Linked DNA regions of Homo sapiens: region 1 is linked to region 2. The links come from fine-mapping of genetic effects on gene expression. A gene starts in region 2. The other region holds a variant in brackets. All regions are shown on one strand. Distances are from middle to middle. Region 1 holds the start of ZNF789 (zinc finger protein 789). Region 2 holds the start of ZKSCAN5 (zinc finger with KRAB and SCAN domains 5).

Evidence for each region. PIP is the estimated chance that this variant, and not a neighbour inherited with it, causes the effect.
Region 1: its variant is fine-mapped to the expression of ZKSCAN5 in whole blood (INTERVAL, PIP 0.98).

The regions. Positions count from the first base shown.
Region 1 is chr7:99,472,851-99,483,528 of GRCh38, forward strand. It overlaps ZNF789 (zinc finger protein 789), which reads left to right and starts at 40. Exons shown (of 5, transcript NM_213603.3): 1 at 40-206; 2 at 3,553-3,630; 3 at 6,811-6,937. The coding sequence starts at 3,607. RefSeq lists an enhancer at 40-329. The variant T/C (reference allele first, on the strand shown) is at 5,358.
Region 2 is chr7:99,498,950-99,509,627 of GRCh38, forward strand. ZKSCAN5 (zinc finger with KRAB and SCAN domains 5) reads left to right here and starts at 5,713. Exons shown (of 7, transcript NM_145102.4): 1 at 5,713-5,784; 2 at 7,056-7,509. The coding sequence starts at 7,096. It overlaps ZNF394 (zinc finger protein 394), which reads right to left and starts at 1,332. Exons shown (of 3, transcript NM_032164.4): 1 at 689-1,332. The coding sequence starts at 1,144. RefSeq lists enhancers at 1-440, 663-942, 5,300-5,349, 5,740-5,919, 6,300-6,379 and a silencer at 9,895-10,088.

The DNA.
Region 1 (10,678 bases), 26 kb before region 2:
CTGGCTGGGACGCTTCGCTCGGCGCGCGCAGGTGGAGCCAGCGAGAGGCTCTGAGGCTGCCAGAGTGGTTGTGTCTGTTCCTCCGGTAAGGGGTGATTCGCCGAGGGGCGCGGACCAGACAGACCTCGGGTCAGGCCCGGGAACCCCGAGAGGAGAGCCCAGCCCCTGGTGGAGGCGGCTTGGCGGAGATTCGGAGCCGTCAGCAGGTTTGGGGAGAAGGAAACGAGTGTTGTGGGGGGCGTGGGTGCGGGGGGTAGGCCACTGCGCACACCCCCGGCTCGCAGGGGACGCTCCGGGTTTGTGCGGCGGCTCTCGGGGCCTGTGGCACCAGCTTTTGAGTATTTTTGGCGGTGTCAAGTCTTCGGCAGCGAGAGGAGCAAAGTCCGAAGAATGAATGGATGGTGAACGCCTGGACTTGGTTTTGTTAGAGTGGGAGATGAGCCGTGGTTGTTAGTGGAAGGTGTTCACGTGATTGTGAAGCGGCATTTTGGATTTTGTCAAAAGTTAACAGTCCCCTCCAGTTAAAGTTTTAAGAGTTTATTGTGCATGCAGAGGAACAGCTGGCAAATTGTTCCAATGGCAGCTTGGAAAGCTAAATGAGGAAGTGCAGTGATCTTGATTGTAATTGGCCATTATCAACTTGCATTCCTTCTAGGGTAAGTCGAGCTGGATCAGCCTCGCATCTGTAGCTGATTGGTTCAGTTTATCATGCGGACGAGAAAAAAGCTTCTTTCCTGGTCAGCGCACACTTTTCAGGGAAATAAGGAATTGTTGTTGCTGTTGTGTTTGAGACGAAGTGTTACTCTGTTGCCCAGTTTGGAGTACAATGGGCCAATCTCGACTCACTGCAACCTCCAACTCCCGGGTTCAAGCGATTCTCCTGCCTCAGCCTCTCGAGTAGCGGGGACTACAGGCACGCGCCACCATGCCCGGCTAATTTTTGTATTTTTAGTGGAGACTGGGTTTCACTATGTTGGCCAGGCTGGTCTTGAACTCCTGACCTCATGATCCGCCCGCCTCGGCCTCCCAAAGTGCTGGGATTTACAGGTGTGAGCCACCACGCCCGGCCTGTTGTTTTTAAGAGAGACAGGGTCTTGCTCTGTCACCCAGGGTGGAGTGTAGTGGTGCCATCATAGCTCATTGCAGTCTCCAACTCCTGAACTCAAGGGAGAAATCAATGTATTTTAAATGCCTTACATGGCTGTGGGTGGTTGGCCTAGGGCCGTACCCAAAACATGGACTCCATTTAATTTTTCATTAGCAAGTCTGACATTCAGATGCACAGCCTTCACAAACACATTCAGTAAATATAGTGCAGGGGTGTCCAATCTCTTGGCTTCCCTGGGCCACATTGGAAGAAGAATTGTCTTGGACTACACATAAAATACACAAACACTAAAAATAGCTCATGAGCTAAAAAAAAATCGCAAAACAATTTCATAAGGTTTTAAGAAAGTTTACGAGCCGGGCGCGGTGGCTCACGCCTGTAATCCCAGCACTTTGGGAGGCCAAGGCGGGAGGATCACGAGGTCAGGAGATCAAGACCATCCTGGCTAACACGGTGAAACCCCGTCTCTACTAAAAATACAAAAAATTAGCGGGGCGTGGTGGCGGGCGCCTGTAGTCCCAGCTACTCGGGAAGCTGAGGCAGGAGAATGGCGTGAACCCGGGAGGCGGAGCTTGCAGTGAGCCGAGATCGCGCCACTGCACTCCAGCCTGGGCGACAGAGCGAGACTCCACCTCAAAAAAAAAAAAAAGAAAGTTTACGAATTTGTGTTGGGTTGGATTCAAAGTCGTCCTGGGCCATATGCGGTCCACAGGCTGAGGTTTGGACAAGTTTGGTGTAGAGAATGAAAGGGATGAGGCCTTTGCTCCAGCCTTGGAGCCATTGATCAGGATAGTTTTTAGAGTGTACCTCTTTGCTTAAAAGGCAGAGGGTCCACCCTGGGCAACATAGCAAGGCCCCACCTACAAAAGAACTACAAACAACTGGGCGTGGTGGTGCACTCTTGCAGTCCCATCTGCTTAGGAGACTGAGGCAGGAGCATTGCTTAAGCCCAGGAGTTGGAAGCTACAGTGAGCCATGATTACACCACTGCACTCCAGCCTGGGTGATAGAGGGAGACTCCTCAAAAAAAAAAAGAAAGGCAAAGGGTCTTCTAAACTGTTTTCAGGGAAGGTGAACTGTGTTTGAGGGGCATCCATTAAAATGAAAGTGAATTTCATTAAAATTCATCCTGAGTTAGAAAGCAAGTCTGTAGGCTGGGCGCAGTGGCTCACGCCTGTAATCCCAGCACTTTGGGAGGCTGAGGTGGGTGGATCACCTGAGATCAGGAGTTCAAGACCAGCCTGACCAACATGGTGAAACCCCATCTCAACTAAAAATACAAAAAAGTAGCTGGGCATGGCGGCGGGTGCCTGTAATCCCAGCTACTTCCGGAGGCTGAGGCAGGAGAATCGCTTGAACCCAGGAGGCGGAGGTTGCAGTGAGCAGAGATCACACCATTGTACTCCAGCCTGCACAACAAGAGTGAAACTCTGTTTAAAAAAAAAAAAAAATCAAGTCTGTAATTGTTACTGTTGCTGAATCCTGCTAGCAAATCACCAGGCTAGAGGTGAGGGTTGAGTGACCCCTTTAGAACACTTTCAGAGGGGGCTTGTCAGCAGGTGGAGCTGGCTGTAGGAGCAGGGTTGGAAATACGTAAGTAGATTTAGAGAAAGAAAAGCTGGTGAACTGGAATCCCTAGGATAACTAGACTCGGACATCCTGTGTGATAGGGGAGGGGAGCATTTGGCTTTCTCCTGTTGGTCCTAAATTAAAGGGAGTGGGGAGCAAAATTTTGGATAAAGCTGTTATTGATCAAGTCCTGATTTGGGGCCCATGCCTCAGAGGCTATGGTTTGGCTTCCAGAGCTGGTTGCTGCAGGGTGTGGATCAGAGTGCTATTTTTTCTTTCTTTTTTTTTTTTTTTTTGAGATGGAGTCTTGCTCTGTCACCAGGCTGGAGTGCAGTGGTACAATCTCAGTTCACTGCAACCTCCGCCTCCCAGGTTCAAGCGATTCTCCTGCCTCAGCCTCCCAAGTAGCTGGGAGTACAGGTGCCTGCCACCTCGCCCAGGTAATTTTTTGTATTTTAGTAGAGAAGGGCTTTCACCATGTTGGCCAGGATGGTCTCCATCTTCTGACCTCGTGATCCACCCGCCTCAGCCTCCCAAAGTGCTGGGATTATAGGCGTGAGCCACCGTGCCTGGCCAGAGTGCTATGTTTATATGTGGTCTATCTGCTGTCCCTTTGTATATGAGGTGCAGAGTATGACATGTTCTAGGGAGAAGGGGAGGGCAGGGCTGCAGGTTCTCTTGGATGGAGCTTGGGAAATTGAAATTACTAGACTTATTGTAGCGGCTCATGCATTTCATCACATGTTCCAACACCAAACACAGGGACTTTGTATTAAGCTTTGTCTGTGTGCCCCGTTGGAATTCCGGGTCCCAGATCTGCCAACCAAGAGAGCTTCAAATTAGGGCTGGCCTTACTGACTTTTTTTCTTCTCCAGCTCAGCCAGACGTCCAGGATCCCACCCCTTGCAAAAGACCAGGCCGTGGAAGCCATGTTCCCACCAGCCAGGGGGAAGGTGAGCTGTGCCTCCCCCTCTGCTTCATCAGCATAGTCACTGCCACCAGCAGCTCCTTCCTCAGACTGAGCCCTCTTGATCAATGTGGGGAGTTTTCCTTCTTAGACAGTGCAATGTAGAGAGCTTAGCCTCTGGAGTCACATGGGCTTCCTTCAGTTACATAAACACTCTGGCTCCAGTTTTCTTTTCTGTAAAATGGGTCAGTGAGAGTGCCTATCACAGCGAGTTGTGAAGATTCAATGAAAAACACCCTGTGAAGTCCTTTGTGCAGTATCTGGTTACTCGTTTAGCACTGTGTTAAGTTGTTGCTCTTATTACCGTAGTAGTTGCCCATTGTTTCTGTCTGTGAGCATTATTGTGCACCTACTGCTGTACACTCCAGGTGCTGTTTTCTGTGCTGGGAGATCAACTCTTACCTGTAGGAGATTACAACCTGATTAGAGAGATAGTTGTGTAAGGAACTTCTCATAATAAATTCTGAACTGTTCCTATGAACGGGTATAATGGAAGGTCAGTTATTGAATTTGTAGCATTATGGAGGGTGATTAGAAGAGACTGAGTTGTTTTGTCTTTTTTTTTTTTTGACGGAGTCTCACTCTGTTGCCAGGCTGGAGTGTAGTGGCGCGATCTCAGCTCACTGCATCCTCTGCCTCCCGGGTTCAAGTGATTATCCTGCCTCAGCCTCCCAAGTAGCTGGGACTACAGGCGAGTGCCACCACGCCCAGCTAATTTTTGTACTTTTAGTAGAGACGGGGTTTCACCATGTTGGCCAGAATGGTCTCCATCTCTTGACCTCGTGATCCACCCACCTCAGCCTCCCAGAGTACTGGCATTACAGGCGTGAGCCACTGTGCCCAGCCTGTGTTTTGTCTTTTTTTAGACGGAGTCTCACACTGTTGCCCAGGCTGGAATGCAGTGGCATGATCATGGCTCATGGCAGCCTTGACCTTCCCAGGCTCAGGTGATCCTCCCACCTCAGCCTCCCAAGTAGTTGGGACCACAGGTACATGCCACCACGCCTGGTTACTTTTGTATTTTTTGTAGAGACAGGGTTACACCATGTTGCCCAGGTTGTTCTTGAACTCTTGGCTTGAGCCATCCACCAGCCTCAGCCTCCCAAAGTGCTGGGAATCCAGGTGTGAGCCACCGCGCCCAGCCTAGAAGAGACTGAGTTTGAAAGAAAGGAGAGGACCAGTGGCTCATGCCTGGAATCCCAGCACTTTGGGAGGCTGAGGGGGGTGGATTGCCTGAGGTCAGGAGTTTGAGACCAGCCTGGCCAACATATAGTGAAACTCCATCTCTACTAAAAATACAAAAATTAGCTGGGTATAGTGGCGCATGCCTATAATCCCATCTACTTGGGAAGCTGAGGCAGGAGAATTGCTTGAACCGAGGAGGTGGAGGTTGCAGTGAGCCGAGATCGCGCCATTGCACTCTAGCCTGGGCAACAAGAGCGAAACTGTCTCAAAAAACAAAAACGAAAACAAAAACCCAAACAAACAAAAAATGGAACTTTTAAGCAACATTTGGTGCCCATCTGTCAATGTACAAGTCCTAGCTGTTGATGGGTTCTTGGAAACTGCAACTTTAAGGGAAACTATGTATATCAAAACCGTTTTTTTTCCATCAGTGTTACAGTGAAACAAAGTTATTCAAGGACCTGCTGCTGTACATACTTTTGCTAAAAATCAGTTTCCAAGAACCTATTGTGGATGTTAGGAGAGGAG[T/C]TACCATGCCACAATGACTCTGGGAGATGAAGCCATTTTATTCCCATGCTTGTTAACCTTGTGCAGGTGCGGGAATGCAGATGGCTGAGTAGGTCAGATTGAGGACATGGCAGCGCAGCTCTGGTAAAAGAGTGACACTCTGGATAATGGTGAGAAAGGGCCTGCAACCGTAGCAGTGGAACTCAGGTTTGATAGGCAGGAAAGAAAGTCCGTATAATTTGGGAGGTTCTGGTGCCTGCCTGCAGAGGGGAGCTACGTGAAGCTTCTCAGGATGGTCTCAGGATGGGGGTGGGCATTTCCTGTTACTGACCACTTATAGGACAGCGAACGTTTGCCCTTTCCCTGCACACATCCCCTCTGAACCCATGCAGTGTCTTGTGAGAGCAAGGAGTGTGTAGACAGCCGCTGGGCCCCTTTGCCCAGAGGGCTGCAGTGGTGTGGGAGGGAGAGTGTGGCAGCTTCAGTGCTCAGCCCACTGGAGGGGGCAGTCACTTGCAGATGTAATGTCCCCTGTGCTCACTGTGCTGTGTCCACTGTTGCCCACTCTGGATATGCTCCCCAGGCGTCTGCGCCTTGGTCTGTACCTTTTATATTCTCCAGCAACGGGCTCCCCTGGTCTCTGGCATCTGCTTGGCTTGTGGCAATGGGATGAAGAGGGTTGGAGGACAGGGGACAGGGCGCCGGAGGCCTGGGGAAAACTGAGGTTGGGTTTCTCTTCCCACGGCTCCCTCCCCACTGGGCTGTGGGATGGGTGTGGCTGCATCCTGTTCAGCCGCAGCTGGTCTTGCTCCCCTTCCAGCAGCCTTCTGGGCTCCAGCAGCCCTCCCCACCTTACCCCTTCAGACCTAGCAGGCCCTGGTTCCCCAGGGTGGCCAGGACCTGCGAGCTTCCACATTTCTTGTTCATGTTCATTGAGACTATTCATCCCTTTGTAAATAGTCTGCACATTAACCAACCCCCCAGTGACCTCATCTCTTTCCTAAGGAACCTGGGGCAGAAGCAATAGGTTATTTTTATAGAGCAGCGGTCAGCAAACTGCCCTGGACCGCTTGGTAAAGTTTCCCTGAAACACAGCTGTGCCCATTCGCTTACTTGTCCACGGCTGCTTTTGTGCTCCAACACAAAGGCTGTTCCTCAGATTGTTGATTTGCTGTTCCTCTAATCAACAGCAGATTTGAGGAACTGGAACAGAGACCAGAGGGCCTGAAAAGCCTAAAATATTTACCATCTGGCCCTTTAGAGATTAATTGTGTCGACCCCGTGGTATGGAAGCCAGCACATGTCTGGCCTGAGGGCCATCAGGCCTGAAAGGAGCCCTGAATATATTCCTTATGAATTGGGTGCCCTTGGCCCACACTCTACCTCCCAAACCTTGGTTTCCTCAGCTGTGGAATAATCATTGAGCGTAAGTTATTTTAAGAATTGCAGTTACCTTTATCAGCTACTTTTCCAGGAGCTGCTCTCGTTTGAGGATGTGGCGATGTACTTCACCAGAGAGGAGTGGGGCCACCTCAACTGGGGTCAGAAGGACCTCTACCGAGATGTGATGTTGGAGAACTACAGGAACATGGTCTTGCTGGGTAGGACACGGCTTGAAGATTGGGCTTTGTCTGTGTTCTGAGTGTCTGTGCAAGCCCTTAGTCCCTTATCTGCAATTCCAGAATCAGAAAAAGCGGTGAAAACCGAAAGGTTTTTTTATAACTCGTGTGGCTACAAGCCCTGACCAGACATCACCACAGTGAAACCTGACTTCATCCTATAGGAAACCATTTATTGTCTTTATTTTTCCAACTTGGTGTGCATATCTGTATACCCAACTTCAGAAATAACAGTGTAGGCCAGGTGCGGTGGCTCACACCTGTAATCCCAGCACTTTGGGATTCCGAGGCGGGTGGATCACATGAGGTCAGTAGTTTGAGACCAGCCTGGCCAATATGGTGAAACCCAGCTCTACTTAAGATGCGAAAATTAGCCTGGTGTGGTGGTGCACGCTTGTAGTCCCAGTTACTTGGGAGGCTGAGGCAGGAGAATCGCTTGAACCCGGGAGGCAGAGGTTGCATTGAGCCGAGATCATGCCGCTGCATTCCAGCCTGGGTGACAGAGCGAGACTCCGTCTCAAAACAAAACAAAACAACAACAAAAATAACAGTGTATTTGAGGGCACCACTCCAAACCCTACTGGGGATGATACGTTATGTAAAATATTTACACCAGGTCACCTTTCTGAAATGGGAAAAATTCTGACTCCTGAAACACATCTGGTCCTAAGGGTTTCACATAAGGGACTGGGGACAGTGAATAGTCGTGTTGTGTTAGGGCTCAGACCGAGACACTTCATGCATTCTTCACTCTCACCTCGTGTTCCTCATCTGTAAGACCTCCAGGAGTTGAGAATTATGGTAGATTTACATTCCAAAGGCTCACTTCTTATGCTCTTGAAAGTCTTTTTCTTTCTTTTCTCTGGAAATGGGTAACTTCTTGGTGTGTAACATTAGTGGGTGCTCAGGAAATGATTTTCAACCAACTTCATTTCTGAACCTTCACTGCTTCCATTCTTTTCAGGAGCCTACCCTGTCCTAGTCCACTGTAGTCTCCCACTGTGGGAGTTGCCTTGCTAAATAGTTTTCTTTCCGGGGTCACATGTTTAACCCTTGCACTGACACTCTTAGCACAGAGTCTTGACCACCTCTGTGGGACTGTCCACCCACCTCTGGATTTTTATAATTTTAATTTTCCCTTTAAAAGCATTACAGGAGCATACATAAGTACATGGAAGGCATAGAAAAGGAGGAGAAGAGGAAAGTGTTCATGGGTAACACTGTTAATATTTTGGAAGGTTTCCTGCCAGTCTTTTTTTCCTATGCCTTTACAAAAGTAGCTGAGCATATTCTATGTGCAATCCTGTAATCTGTTTTAAATGTAACATTATTGTATCAGCATTTCCCCACATAATCAGTAAACGAGCATAATATAATTCCATTGTGTGGTCCATAAAAATATTTCATTGTTTTCCCATGTGGGGACATTGAGCTTGCCTTTGTTTGTTCGTTGGTTTGCTTGTGTATTTATAATGTTTGAATAGATGTTTGAGTATAAATCTTTGCATGAATTTTTGATCATTTCCCAAGATACTTTCCCAAAATCAGAATTTTGAAGTTAAATGAGATGGCACTTTAATCTTTATTGATTACTGAATGATTCTTCAACAAACTTTGTACTGTTTTGCATATCCAATAGTAACATTTTAGAGTGCTTCTTTTTTTTTTTGAGACAGAGTTTCGCTCTTGTTGCCCAGGCAGGAGTACAATGGCAGGATCTCAGCTCACCACAACCTCTGCCTCCCCGGTTCAAGTGATTCTCCTGCCTCAGACTCCTGAGTAGCTGGGATTACAGGCATGTGCCACCACACCTAGCTAATTTTGTATTTTTAGTAGAGACGGGGTTTCGCCATGTTGGTCAGGCTGGTCTCAAACTCCCGATCTCGGGTGACCCGCCCACCTCAGCCTCCCAAAGTGCTGGGATTACAGGTGTGAGCCACTGCACCCAGCTGAGAGTGCTTCTTTACTATATCACTGCCTTCTTTTATGGATTTTACTAGTTCTAAAAATAATTTTCATTACAGAAATTTTGGAAAATACATCAGTAAATAGAGTAGATAATAAAAATCACCTGCAGGCCTACTTTCCAGAAGTAACTCTTGTTATTAACATTTTGGTTTACTTTTTCCCAGTCCGTCTATGTGTCTATTACAGGGAAAGAATCCCTTATCCAAAATGCTGGGGACCAAAAGTGTTTTGGATTTCGGATTTTTCTTTTTTGGATTTTGGAATACTCATAAATATATAATAAGATAATTTGAGGATCTGACAAGAAATTCACTTATGTTTCATATACACCTTAGACATGTAGCTTCTTCAAGCTACGCTTGATTTAATTGTTCCCTTTTGATATTCAGTTTATTTCCAGTTTGATGCTGCAATACCACTGTGCTGAACGTCTCTGGCACATTCATCTTGGTTGCAATTGTACTTTAGGCTATATTTCTAAGAGCGAAATGACCACAGCCAAAGGTATGAACATTGTTCAGGCTTTCAATAAAGACTGCCAGATATTTACAAAGATTGTGCCAATCTCTGTTTTTCCCTGGGGAAGGCTGAATTAACTGTGTGTTGTGCACCTGCGTTTTGACTGCCACTGGTCACGTGAGGTCAGGTGTGGAACTCTCCACTTTTATCAGGTTAGTGCTCAGAAAGTTTCGGATTTGGGAGCATTTTGGATTAGGGATGTTCAAACTGTATTAATTACTTATACACACACACACATAACATACACACTACATAGTTTTTTAAAACAAAATTTGGGGTCAGGCATGGTGGCTCATGCCTGTAATCCCAGCACTTTGGGAGGGAGGTCAAGGTGGGCGGATCACCTGAGGTCGGGAGTTCGAGACCAGCCTGAGCAACATGGAGAAACCCTGTCTCTACTAAAAATTCAAAATTAGTCAGGCGTGGTGGCACATGCCTGTAATCTCAGCTATTCCGGAGGCTGAGGCAGGAGAGAACACTTGAACCCGGGAGGCGGAGGTTGTGGTGAGCCAAGATTGTGCCATTGCCCTCCAGCCTGGGCAACAAGAGCAAAACTCTGTCTCAAAAATAAAAAAAATTTGGATCATGCTATATATGAGTTTTGTATTCTGCTTTAAAATACATAGGCAGTGTTTTCCTATTTTAATAAATAGTTGGGCTGGGCACGGTGGCTCACGCCTGTAATCCCAGCACTTTGGGAGGCCGAGACAGGTGGATCACCTGAGGTCAGGAGTTCGAGACCAGTTGGCCAACATGGTGAAACCTCGTCTCTATTAAAAATGTAAAAATTAGCTGGGCGTGGTGGCCACATGCCTGTAATTCCAGCTACTTGGGAGGCCGAGGCAAGAGAATCACTTGAACCCGGGAGGCGGAGGTTGCAGTGAGCAGAGATGGTGCCAGTGTACTCCAGCCTGGATGACAGGAGTGAAACTCCGTCTCAAAAATAAATAAATAAATAAAAATAAAAATACAAAAATTAGCCGGGTGGGGGCGACAGAGCAGAGACTCCATCTCAAAATAAATAAATAAATAAATTTATAAATAAATAAATAGTTGGCTAAGTACAGTGGCTCAAGCCTATAATCCCAGCACTTTGGGAGGCCAAGGCGGGTGGATCACCTGAGGTCAGGAGTTCGAGACCAGCCTGGCCAACATGGTGAAACCCCATCTCTAATAAAAATACAAAACTTAGCAAAGCGTGGGGGCGCTGTGCCTGTAGTTCCAGCTACTTGGGAG
Region 2 (10,678 bases):
GCTGACATTCTCTTGTAATCCTGAAAAGCCTTTCTGTGGACTATTTACACTAATTTTGGAGGTAGGTAGGAGCAAAATATTTCTTTAACTTATATCACTGTGATGTATGGGAATGGAAATATGATACAGATTAAAAGTAAACAAGGCCGGGCGCGGTGGCTCACGCCTGTAATCCCAGCATTTTGGGAGGCCGAGGCGGGCGGATCACCTGAGGTCAGGAGTTCGAGACCAGCCTGGCCAACACAGTGAAACCCCGTCTCTACTAAAAATACAAAAATTAGCCGGGCGTGGTGGCGGGCGCCTGTAATCCCAGCTACTCGGGAGACTGAGGCAGGAGAATCGCTTGAACCCGGGAGTCAGAGGTTGCAGCGAGCCGAGATCGCGCCATTGCACTCCAGCCTGGGCAACAAGAGTGAAACTCCATCTCAAACAACAGCAAGAACAACAAGAAAAAAAAAAAAAAGAAAAGAAAAAGAAAGAAAACCAGTAATCCGTGTTCGCTTTATGCTGAGGTCTATAACAAGTCATTTCCTGGATGGATCTGTCACTGTGGCCTACAGAAAGGAAGTCCATACACACCCCAATGTTCACACGAAATGTAATAAGGAAGTAAGTTCCGAAACGCAGAGCACCCCTAAACGCCTATTTTCCACACTCCCACCTCCAGAACAGGCCTTTCGCTTCTCACCTGGGATGAGGTTCCATCGAGCGCTCGCTGCAGAGCCCGCACCACGGCCACCGCCTCCTCCCCGCTCTCTGGGCAGTGCTCTCGCACCCAGGCTTGAAGCTCCTCGGGCAGGATGGTGAGGAACTGCTCCAGCACCAGCAGCTCCAGGATCTGCTCCTTGGAGAGCAGCTCGGGTCTCAGCCACCGACGACAGAGTTCTCGGAGCCGGCTCAGCGCCTCTTCCGGTCCAGCCACCTCCTGGTAACGCAGCTGCCTAAAGTGCAGTCGAGAAGTTTCGGGGTCCGGCGAAGCCGCGGGATAGTTGGGCTCCCAACTTCCGGGTGAGTCTTCCTCCACTTTCACGGGCAAAAGTCCGTCGCGTTGGGACGGCGCCGCGTCCTTGGACCTCGCAGCCATCACCCAGGGTCCCAACTCGGCGTCACTGCCGCGCCTCTGGGCGGTCAAGCTGGAATTCATCTTTCTCCGGCATGTGCTGCCCTTCCTGGAGTCTTCTTTTCAGGTGAAGAAAGAGCAAACCCAAGGAACTCATCAGCCGTCAACACCCTCCGGTCCCAAACACCGGGCCCCACCACACCAGGCCCCTCTCCACACTCTCCTTTCCTCAGCTTTGCGCCTACAACTCTCTCGGTCAAACAACCGAAAACATCCCGTGCCGGAAGCGCGTCATCGAGGCCTTGCGGCACCTTTCCCTGCATTTCCGGGGCCTCTCTAGGCGCCTGATGGGGTGAGGTGCATCTCGCTGGTTTATCGTCCTAGCCCCGCCCGACGCAGAGGGTCTTGACGGTTTCCCGCATCCCGAGGAAATACGGGCGTCCGAGCCGGTGGCCGAGCTCCGGCAAGGGCGGGAACCTTCAGGATTAAATAGACAGGGTCTGGCTCTGTCGCCCAGGCTGGACTGCAGTGGCGCGATTTCGGCTCACTGCAACTTCTGTCTCCCGGGTTCAAGCAATTCTCCAGCTTCAGCCTCCCAAGTATCTAGGACTACAGGTGCGCGCGACCACGCCCGGTTTATTAATTTTTCTGTGGGGATGGGGTTTCATTATATTGCCCAGGTTGGACAAAGTTGTTTTTTTTTCTTTTTTCAGGCGGACTCTCGCTCTGTCGCCAGGCTGTCTTAGCCTCCTGAGTAGCTTGGACTACAGGCGCGCGCCACCATGCCCGGCTACTTTCTGTATTTTAGTAGAGATGGGGTTTCACCATGTTGGTCAGGCTGGTCTGGAACTCCTGACCTCGTGATCCGCCTGCCCCGGCCTCCCAAAGTGCTGGATTACAGGCGTGAGCCGCTGCGCCCAGTTGGAAAAAGTTTTGTTTTTTTTTTAAAACTAAGTGCTTCCATGTACATCAGATGTTAACGACTTTGATCCTAACAAACAAACAAAAAAGATGAGGAAATTGAGGCTCAAAGATGTGTCCTGGCCTGGCTCAGTGGCGTATGCCTGTAATCCCAGCATTTTGGGAGGCTGAGGGGGGAAGATCGCTTGAAGCCAAGAATTGGAGACCCCAATGTCTACAAAAAATAAAAAATTAGCTGGGTGTGGTGGTGCACACCTGTAGTCCCAGTGAGAGGTGAAGCTAGTTGGACTTCCTGGGTCCAGTGGGGACTTGGACAACTTTTCTGTCTTACAAGAGGTTTGTAAAAATGCACCAATCAGCGCTCTGTAGCTAGCAAGAGGTTTGTAAAATGCACCAATCAGCGCTCTGTAAAATGGACCAATCAGCAGGATTCTAAAAGCAGCCAATCGCAGGGAGGATGGAAAAAAGGGCGTTCTGATACGACAGAAACGGACATGGGAGGGGACAAATAAGAGACTAAAAGCTCCCACCCCAGTCAGCGGAGGCAACCGGCTGGAGTGCTCTGCCATGCTGTGGAAGGTTTGTTCTTTCGCTCTTCACAATAAATCTTGCTGCTACTCACTCTTTGGGTCCGTGCCATCTTTAAGAGCTGTAACACAGTGAAGGTCGGAGGCTGCATTCTTGAAGTCAGCGAGAGGATGAACCCACTGGAAGGAACCAACTCAGGATACACCACTTACTTGGGAGGCTGAGGTGGGAGGATCCTTTGAGCCCAGGAGGTAAAGACTGCAGTGAGATATGATCGCACCAGTGCACTCCAGCCTGGGTGACAGAGCAAGACTCTGTCTCTAAAACAAAGTGTCTTGGTTGATGTCAAGCTGCTGGTGATTTGCAACTTGCATAAAATGAGACGATCGCTTGAGACCAGGAGTTCCAGGCCAGCCTGAGCAACATAGAGAGGATGTGTCTCCATATAAAAATAAAAAAATTTTTTTTTGAGAGGGAGTATCGCTCGGGTTCAAGCGATTCTCCTATCTCAGCCTCCCAAGTAGCTGGGATTACAGGCGCGTGCCACCACACCCAGCTAATTTTTTGTATTTTTAGTAGAGACGGGGTTTCACCATGTTAGCCAGGATGGTCTTGATTTCCTGACCTCGGCTCACTGCAACCTCTGCCTCCTGGGTTCAAGCAATCCCCCTCCCCACCCCACGCCCAAACAAACCGAACACTATTTATCAATCCAGGTGTGTTTAATAACTAGACATAAAAATATCTCTTATGGAGCCAGGTGCGGTGGCTCACGCCTGTAATCCCAGCACTTTGGGAGGCCGAGGCGAGGGGATCACCTGAGGTCGGGAGTTCAAGACCAGCCTGACCAACATGGAGAAACTTCGTCTCTACTAAAAAATACAAAATTAGCCGGGCATGGTGGCGCATGCCTGTAATCGCAGCTACTCGGGAGGCTGAGGCAGGAGAATCACTTGAACCCAGGAGGCAGAGGTTCACTAAGCCAAGATCGTGCCATTCACTCCAGCCTAGGCAACCAGCAAAACCATCTCAAAAAAAAAAAAAAAAAAAAAAAAAAAGGAAACTAGTCATCTTGGCTATCTCTAGAGAGAAAAATGAATGTAGAATGAGAATGAGAGGAAGACCTTAAGTGCCTTATTGAATTTTGACTCATGCAAATGTGTTATCTATTTAAGAAATAAATTATTGAAATGCAAAAGGTGTTTATAAATAATTCAAACCGGTTGCGGTGGCTCACGCCTGTAATCCCAGCACTTTGGGAGGCCGAAGCAGGCAGATCACGAGGTCAGGAGATGGAGACCATCCTGGGTAACACGGTGAAACCCCATCTCTACTAAAAATACAAAAAGTTATCCAGGTGTGGTGGCACACACCTGTAATCCCAGCTACTCAGGAGGCTGAGGCAGGAGAATCGCTTGAACCCGGGAGGCGGAGGTTGCAGTGAGCCGAGATCATGCCACGGCACTCCAGCCTGGGCGACAGAGTGAGATTCCGTCTCAAAAAAATAAATAGATAAACAAACAAATAAATAAATCATTTAAATGGAGGTAAATATATTAGAAAAGAATGGGTATCCACCAAACATTTTTTTTTTTGAGACGGGGTGTCTCTGTCACTGAGGTGCTGAAGTGCAATGGCACAATCATAACTCACTGCAGCCTCAACCTCTTGAATTCAAGTGATCCTCCAGTCTCAGCCTGCTGAGTAGCTGAGACTATAGGCATGTGCCACCATGCCTAGCTAATTTTATTTTATTTTTTGTAGAGACGGGGTAAAAAGGCCAGGCTGGTCTTCAACTCCTGGATTCTAGTGATCCTCTCACCTCGGCCTCCCAAAATGTTGGGATTACAGGCGTGAGCCACCATGCCCATCTGGAACAACTTTCATAGACATTAAACAACTTTATACGAGCAACAAAATTAAGCCATAGGTGCAAAATTCTATACCAACTCACTAACACACAAAATACGGGCATTGCAAACATTCACCGGGGGTTTGGTCCTAGATAGGAAGCTACTTAAAATGCAAGATTTTGGGCTCCCTGAAAAGAGACCTTTAACTTCTAAATATCTTCTCATCTTTTTGCAGATGCTGCAATTTCACAGCAGTTCCTTCCTTCGCGCCTGTAAAACAGTGGCAACAGTAACTCTTCTCCTGCCTGCCCATCAACTTTGTAAACTGCGCGGGGCGTAGGGGGAGGGGAGGGCTGGGGCCTGGAAACTATAAAGCACCATATGAAAAGGAGAGCACTGGGAGGTCGATGCGGGCGCATCACCTGAGGTCAGGAGTTCGAGACCAGCCTGGCCAACATGGGGAAACCCCGTCTCTACTAAAAATACAAAATAAGCCGGGCGTGGTGAGTGTGCCTGTAATCCCAGCTACTCGAAAGGCTGAGGCAGGAGAATTGCCCGAACCTGGGAGCAGAGGTTACAGTGAGCCGAGATCGTGCCATTGCACTCCAGCCTGGGGGACAACGAGACTCCGTCTCAAAAAACAAAACAAAACAAAACAAAAACGGGAGATTATTACTAAGAGATGGGGTCTCACTATGTTGCCCAGGCTGGAGTGCAATGGTGCGATCCCGGCTCACTGCATCCTCAGCCTCCCGGGTCCAAGTGATTCTCCTGCCTCAGCCTCCCAAGTGGCTGAGATTACAGGCTCGCGCCACCACGCCCAGCTAAGTTTTTGTATTTTTAGTAGAGACGGGGTTTCACCATGTTGGCCAGGCTGGTCTCGAACTCCTGGCCTCAGGTGATCCACCCACCTCGGCCTCCCAAAGTGCTGGCATTACAGGTGTGAGTCACCGAGCCCGGCCAAGGGAGGGTATTTCTAATAGACAGGGGTCTCGCTATGTTGCCCGAGCTGGTCTCGAACTCTTGGGCTCAAGCGATCCTGCTTCTTCAGCCTGTCCACTAGCTAGGCTTACAAGCGTGGGACCCCGCGCCTGGCTGAAGAGAGGTATCATTAAGGACGAGACCCCCTTGGCCAGGGAAGCCCTGCGTAAGCAACGCCCCTCTCTTCAAAGGGATGCCCCGCTCCCTCCGCCCACTCCCAGCCTTCCAGCCTTGGCTCCCGAGGACACGACTCCGGGCCCTGCCACCTTCTGATAGGCTCGCGAGACCGAGGCTGCAAAGAGAGCCGCCCCCCATTGGCCAACCGGCGAGTCCCGCGCGCCACCTCCTGGGAGATGTAGTTCCGGGAACAGCTGGCCCCTGCGACTCGCGGGTGTGACGTTGAAGATGTCGGCCTTCTGAGCCGACTGCGGTGGTCAAGAGGTGGGTTTGTTTGGAAAGTGGGTGGTGAGAGTAGCGAGGATGCGGGTGAAGAAAACCTAAGGGCCCCAAATTCAACATAAGCGAGGTTTGCGGGCTGTCAGCAAGGTACAGACCTACTTCAAATCGGGGCGCAGAGCGTTGGGGGTGGGGGAAGGCGCAAGCTCCCCGGCCAATCAGACACGAGCAACCTCAGCCCAACTCTGGAGGCCCCGCCCCCTTCCCCGCCCCACGGAAAGGGGAGGAGCTTGGGCTGTTTGAATGGCTTTGGGATGGAGCAGGGGAGAGAGTGGCTCCGTTTGCCTCCCCGCTTTGGTGATGCTGTGCGAGCGGCTTCGGGGGCCCTGGAGACGTCCGAGTCACTGAGGGTGGGCTGGGACTCGGGGCCCGCGTCCCATCTCCCCGCCGATTGGTCCGCCCCCCGTGCGAGGTGAGGTCCTCCGGGATTCCTAGAGAGGACGCGGAAGTGCTTTCGGGGGGGGGTGGGATCTAACGGTTTAACCCCGTTGGACAGGGCAAGATTGGACTTGGTTACTTCCGGCGAGGAAGTGTTGGGGAGTGTCGGCTTCGGTTTCTCTCCGTGGGAAGAACCGCATCTTCCCAGCCTCGGCTGCGGGGAGCTTGATGTTCCAGGAGAGCTCCCCTAGAGTGGGGCCTTGAGGGGAGGGGGCAGGGGCTTCGTGACTGGACGGGGGTCCTGTCCCTAACCTTGACCGGGCCACAGTCTCTGTATCTCGGGGTCAGGGGCCATTCTGAGGAATCCAGGTCCAGATCTGTACCTTATAAACGCTGCTTCTCTTTGGGACCGATGGAGTCTCCCCTTGGCCTGTCAAGCTCTTGTAGCTTAGAGAACAGGCTCAGTTTTGACCATTATAATGATTTTCACCCTTATTCCGACTTAAGTTCGTCTTATGGTAGAGAGAAAGAGCGGCTGCGTCTGGACTAGTTAGTCTCGTCCCGTTATTTATATGGAATGTAAAGTTCTTCACTCTAAAACTGTGTTTTAGGTTGGGCCTGATGTCAGATTTGTATGGCTCTCTTTTACACTTTTAAAATGTTGGGGTTATTCCTTATTATCATTTTGTGGGTGAAGTGATGGCTACCTTGTAGTACCTATTTTTAAGTAAATTACTTTGTTGAGTGGTCGTCTTTAGTATAGATGACCTCTTTGCCATCTGTCTTTGCTAATAATGATGCCCAATACATCAGTAGGTTGCATGCTACTGAAAGTGTCCTTCAGAAGATATTAAAGAGCAGAAAAACAATTGTTTCAGTGTAACACAGCCAGCCTCGAAGACTTCCCTCTGAGTTGGAATGATAATGACCGAATCCCGAGAAGTTATAGACTTAGACCCCCCAGCTGAGACTTCCCAGGAGCAGGAAGACCTTTTCATAGTGAAGGTGGAAGAAGAAGACTGCACCTGGATGCAGGAGTACAACCCGCCAACGTTTGAGACTTTTTACCAGCGCTTCAGGCACTTCCAGTACCATGAGGCTTCAGGACCCCGGGAGGCTCTCAGCCAACTCCGGGTGCTCTGCTGTGAGTGGCTGAGGCCCGAGCTGCACACGAAGGAGCAGATCCTGGAGCTGCTGGTGCTGGAGCAGTTCCTGACCATCCTGCCTGAAGAGTTCCAGCCCTGGGTGAGGGAACATCACCCTGAAAGTGGAGAAGAGGCGGTGGCCGTGATAGAAAATATACAGCGAGAACTTGAGGAACGCAGACAGCAGGTGAGTCAAAGAGAAGCTATATGAGCAATGAAGGAGAGGAGTGAACCATCTGCTGAGCAGGGGTGAGATTCTTAGTCCTCTGCTGCTTCATTCATATTCTTTTGTTCTCCTGGGATTAGGTACCCTGTGACTTCCTGCCACTCCAGCAAAGAGAAGCAATATCCAGTGTGTTAACCTGTAGAAGACAATCTGCGATCTTATTTATTTTTTAAATTACTGTATTTATTTAATTATTTATTTTTGAGACGGAGTCTCGCTCTGTCGCCTATGCTGGAGTGCAGTGGTGCGATCTCGGCTCACTGCAAGCTCCGCCTCCCGGGTTCACGCCATTCTCCTGCCTCAGCCTCCGGAGTAGCTGGGACTGCAGGCGTCCGCCACCAGGCCCGGCTAATTTTTTTTTTTTTTTTTTTTGTATTTTTAGTAGAGACGGGGTTTCACCGTGTTAGCCAGGATGGTCTCGATCTCCTGACCTCGTGATCCTCCCACCTCGGCTTCCCAAAGTGCTGGGATTACAGGCGTGAGCCACCATGCCCGGCCACTGTATTTATTTTTTGAGTGACATGATACAAAATTCAAAGAGGTACATAAGGTTGTAATGAAAAGTAAGTTTTCCTCCCATCCCCAATTTCTCTCAACTGCCTAGTTCTCACCTGTGTATTCTTACAGAGCTGTACCATATTCTGTATGTATAAGCATATATACGTCTCATACTTTGGAAAAACGCAAATGTCTTTTAAGTCACTGTGCACTTCTGCCTCTTTTTTCTTATATCTTGGTTTCTTCCACGCCACTGCCATTGCAGCTATCTCACTCTCTGAAATTGCATTGTATTAACTTTTATGGAAGGAGTTTGAGTTGTTCCATTTAAATTGTTCCTTGAGATTGTTTCTAAATTTGTATTATAACAAACTTTGCTGCAATGACTATCTCACATATATGTCTGTATATATGTGTGTATGTAATATACATAATGTATGTGTTTGCGTATATATGTATATATATGCGTATATATGTGTATATATGTGTATATATGTATATATGTGTATATATATGTGTGTATATATGTATATGTGTATATATATATGTATATATATGTATATATATGTGTATATATATGTGTATATTTATGTGTGTGTGTATATATATATGTATATATATAGGCTGGGCGCAGTGGCTCACACCTGTAATCCCAGCATTTTGGGCACCTGAGGTGGGAGGATCACTTAAGACCAGGAGTTCCACATCAGCCTGGGTAGCATAGCGAGACCCCATCTCTACCAGAAAAACCAAACAAAAAATTAGCTGGGTGTGGTGGCATGCACTTATACTTCCAGCTACTCAAGAGGCTGAGGCAGCAGGATCCCTTGAACCTGGTAGTTTGAGGCTGCAGTGAGCTGTGATTTTGCCACTGTATTCCAGCCTGTGTGACAGAGGCATACCCTATTTCAAAAAAAAGTAAAAAGTTAAAAAAATTTAAATTGAAAAAATATATGTATATAAAATTAACTGTAGAAGGAATGCTTGAAACTCAAAATTGTTGGCTTAGAAATACATGTGTAGGCCGGGCACGGTAGCTCATGCCTGTAATCCCAGCACTTGGGGAGGCCGAGGTGGGCAGTTCATGAGGTCAGAAGATCGAGACCATCCTGGCCAACATGGTGAAACCCCATCTCTACTAAAAAATACAAAAATTAGCCGGGCGTGGTGGCACGCACCTGTAATCCCAGGCACTCGGGAGGCTGAGGCAGGAGAATCGCTTGAACCTGGGAGTCGGAGGTTGCAGTGAGCCGAGATTGTGCCACTGCACTCCAGCCTGGCAACAGAGCGAGACTCCATCTCAAAAAAAAAAGTACATTTGTAATTTTGATAGCTGTTGACAGGTTGGTTCCCTCATAGAGGGTATAACAATTTAGAGTACCACCAACAATGTATGAGAGAAATTTTGTGGCCATAGCCTGGTAGAACAATGTTATCAAAATTGGTCATGATTGCCAGTACATAAGATGCAATATTGGCCGGGCATGGTGACTCACGCCTGTAATCCCAGCACTTTGGGAGGCTGAGGCGGGTGGATCATGGGGTCAGATCAAGACCATCCGGGCCAACATGGTGAAACCCCGTCTCTACTAAAAATACAAAAATTAGCTGGGTGTGGTGGCATGCACCTGTAGTCTCAGCTACTTGGGAGGCTGAGGCAGTAGAATCGCTTGAACTTGGGAGGCAGAGGTTGCAGTGAGCCGAGATTGCGCCACTGCACTCCAGCCTGGGCGATGGAGCGAGACTCCCATCTCAAAAAAAAAAAAAAAGATACAATATTTTATTTCTGTGAAATTTTTCTTTCTTTCTTTCTTTCTTTCTTTTTTTTTTTTTTTGGAGACAAGGTCTTACTCTGTCACCCAGACTGTAGTGCAATGGTGCAATTTTGGCTTACCCTCCACCTCCCAGGCTCAAGCAATTCTCTTGCTTCAGCCTCCCAAGTGGCTGGGATTACAGGCATGTGCCACTACCGCCTGGCTAATTTTTTTAGTTTTTTTATTTTTATTTTTTTGAGGTGGAGTCTCACTCTGTCACCCAGGCTGGAGTGCAGTGGTGCGATCTTGTCTCACTGCAACCTCAGCTTCCTGGGTTCAAGTGATTCTCCTGCCTCAGCCTCCCGAGTAGCTGGGATTACAGACATGCACCACCATGCCCAGCTAATTTTTGTATTTTTAGTAGAGACAGGGTTTCGCCATGTTGGCCAGGCTGGTCTTAAACTCCTGACCTCAGGTGATACTCCTGGCTCTGCCTTCCAAAGTGGTGGGATTACAGGCGTAAGCCACATGCCCGGCTTAATTTTTGTATTTTTAGTAGAGATGGTGTTTCACCATGTTGGCCAGGATGTTCTCAAACTCCTGACCTCAGGTGATCCACCTGCCTTGGCCTCCCAAAGTGCTGGGATTGCAGGTGTGAGCCACCACGCCTGACCATATCTGTGAAATTTCAATTAAATTTCTTTTGTTTGACCACAGCACTTTTTTTTTTTTTTTGAGACAGAGTCTCACTCTGTTGCCTAGGCTGGAGTGCAGTGGCGTGATCTCTGCTCACTGCAAGCTCCACCTCCCGGGTTCATGCCATTCTCCTGCCTCAGCCTCCCAAGTAGCTGGGACTACAGGCACACGCCACCATGCCC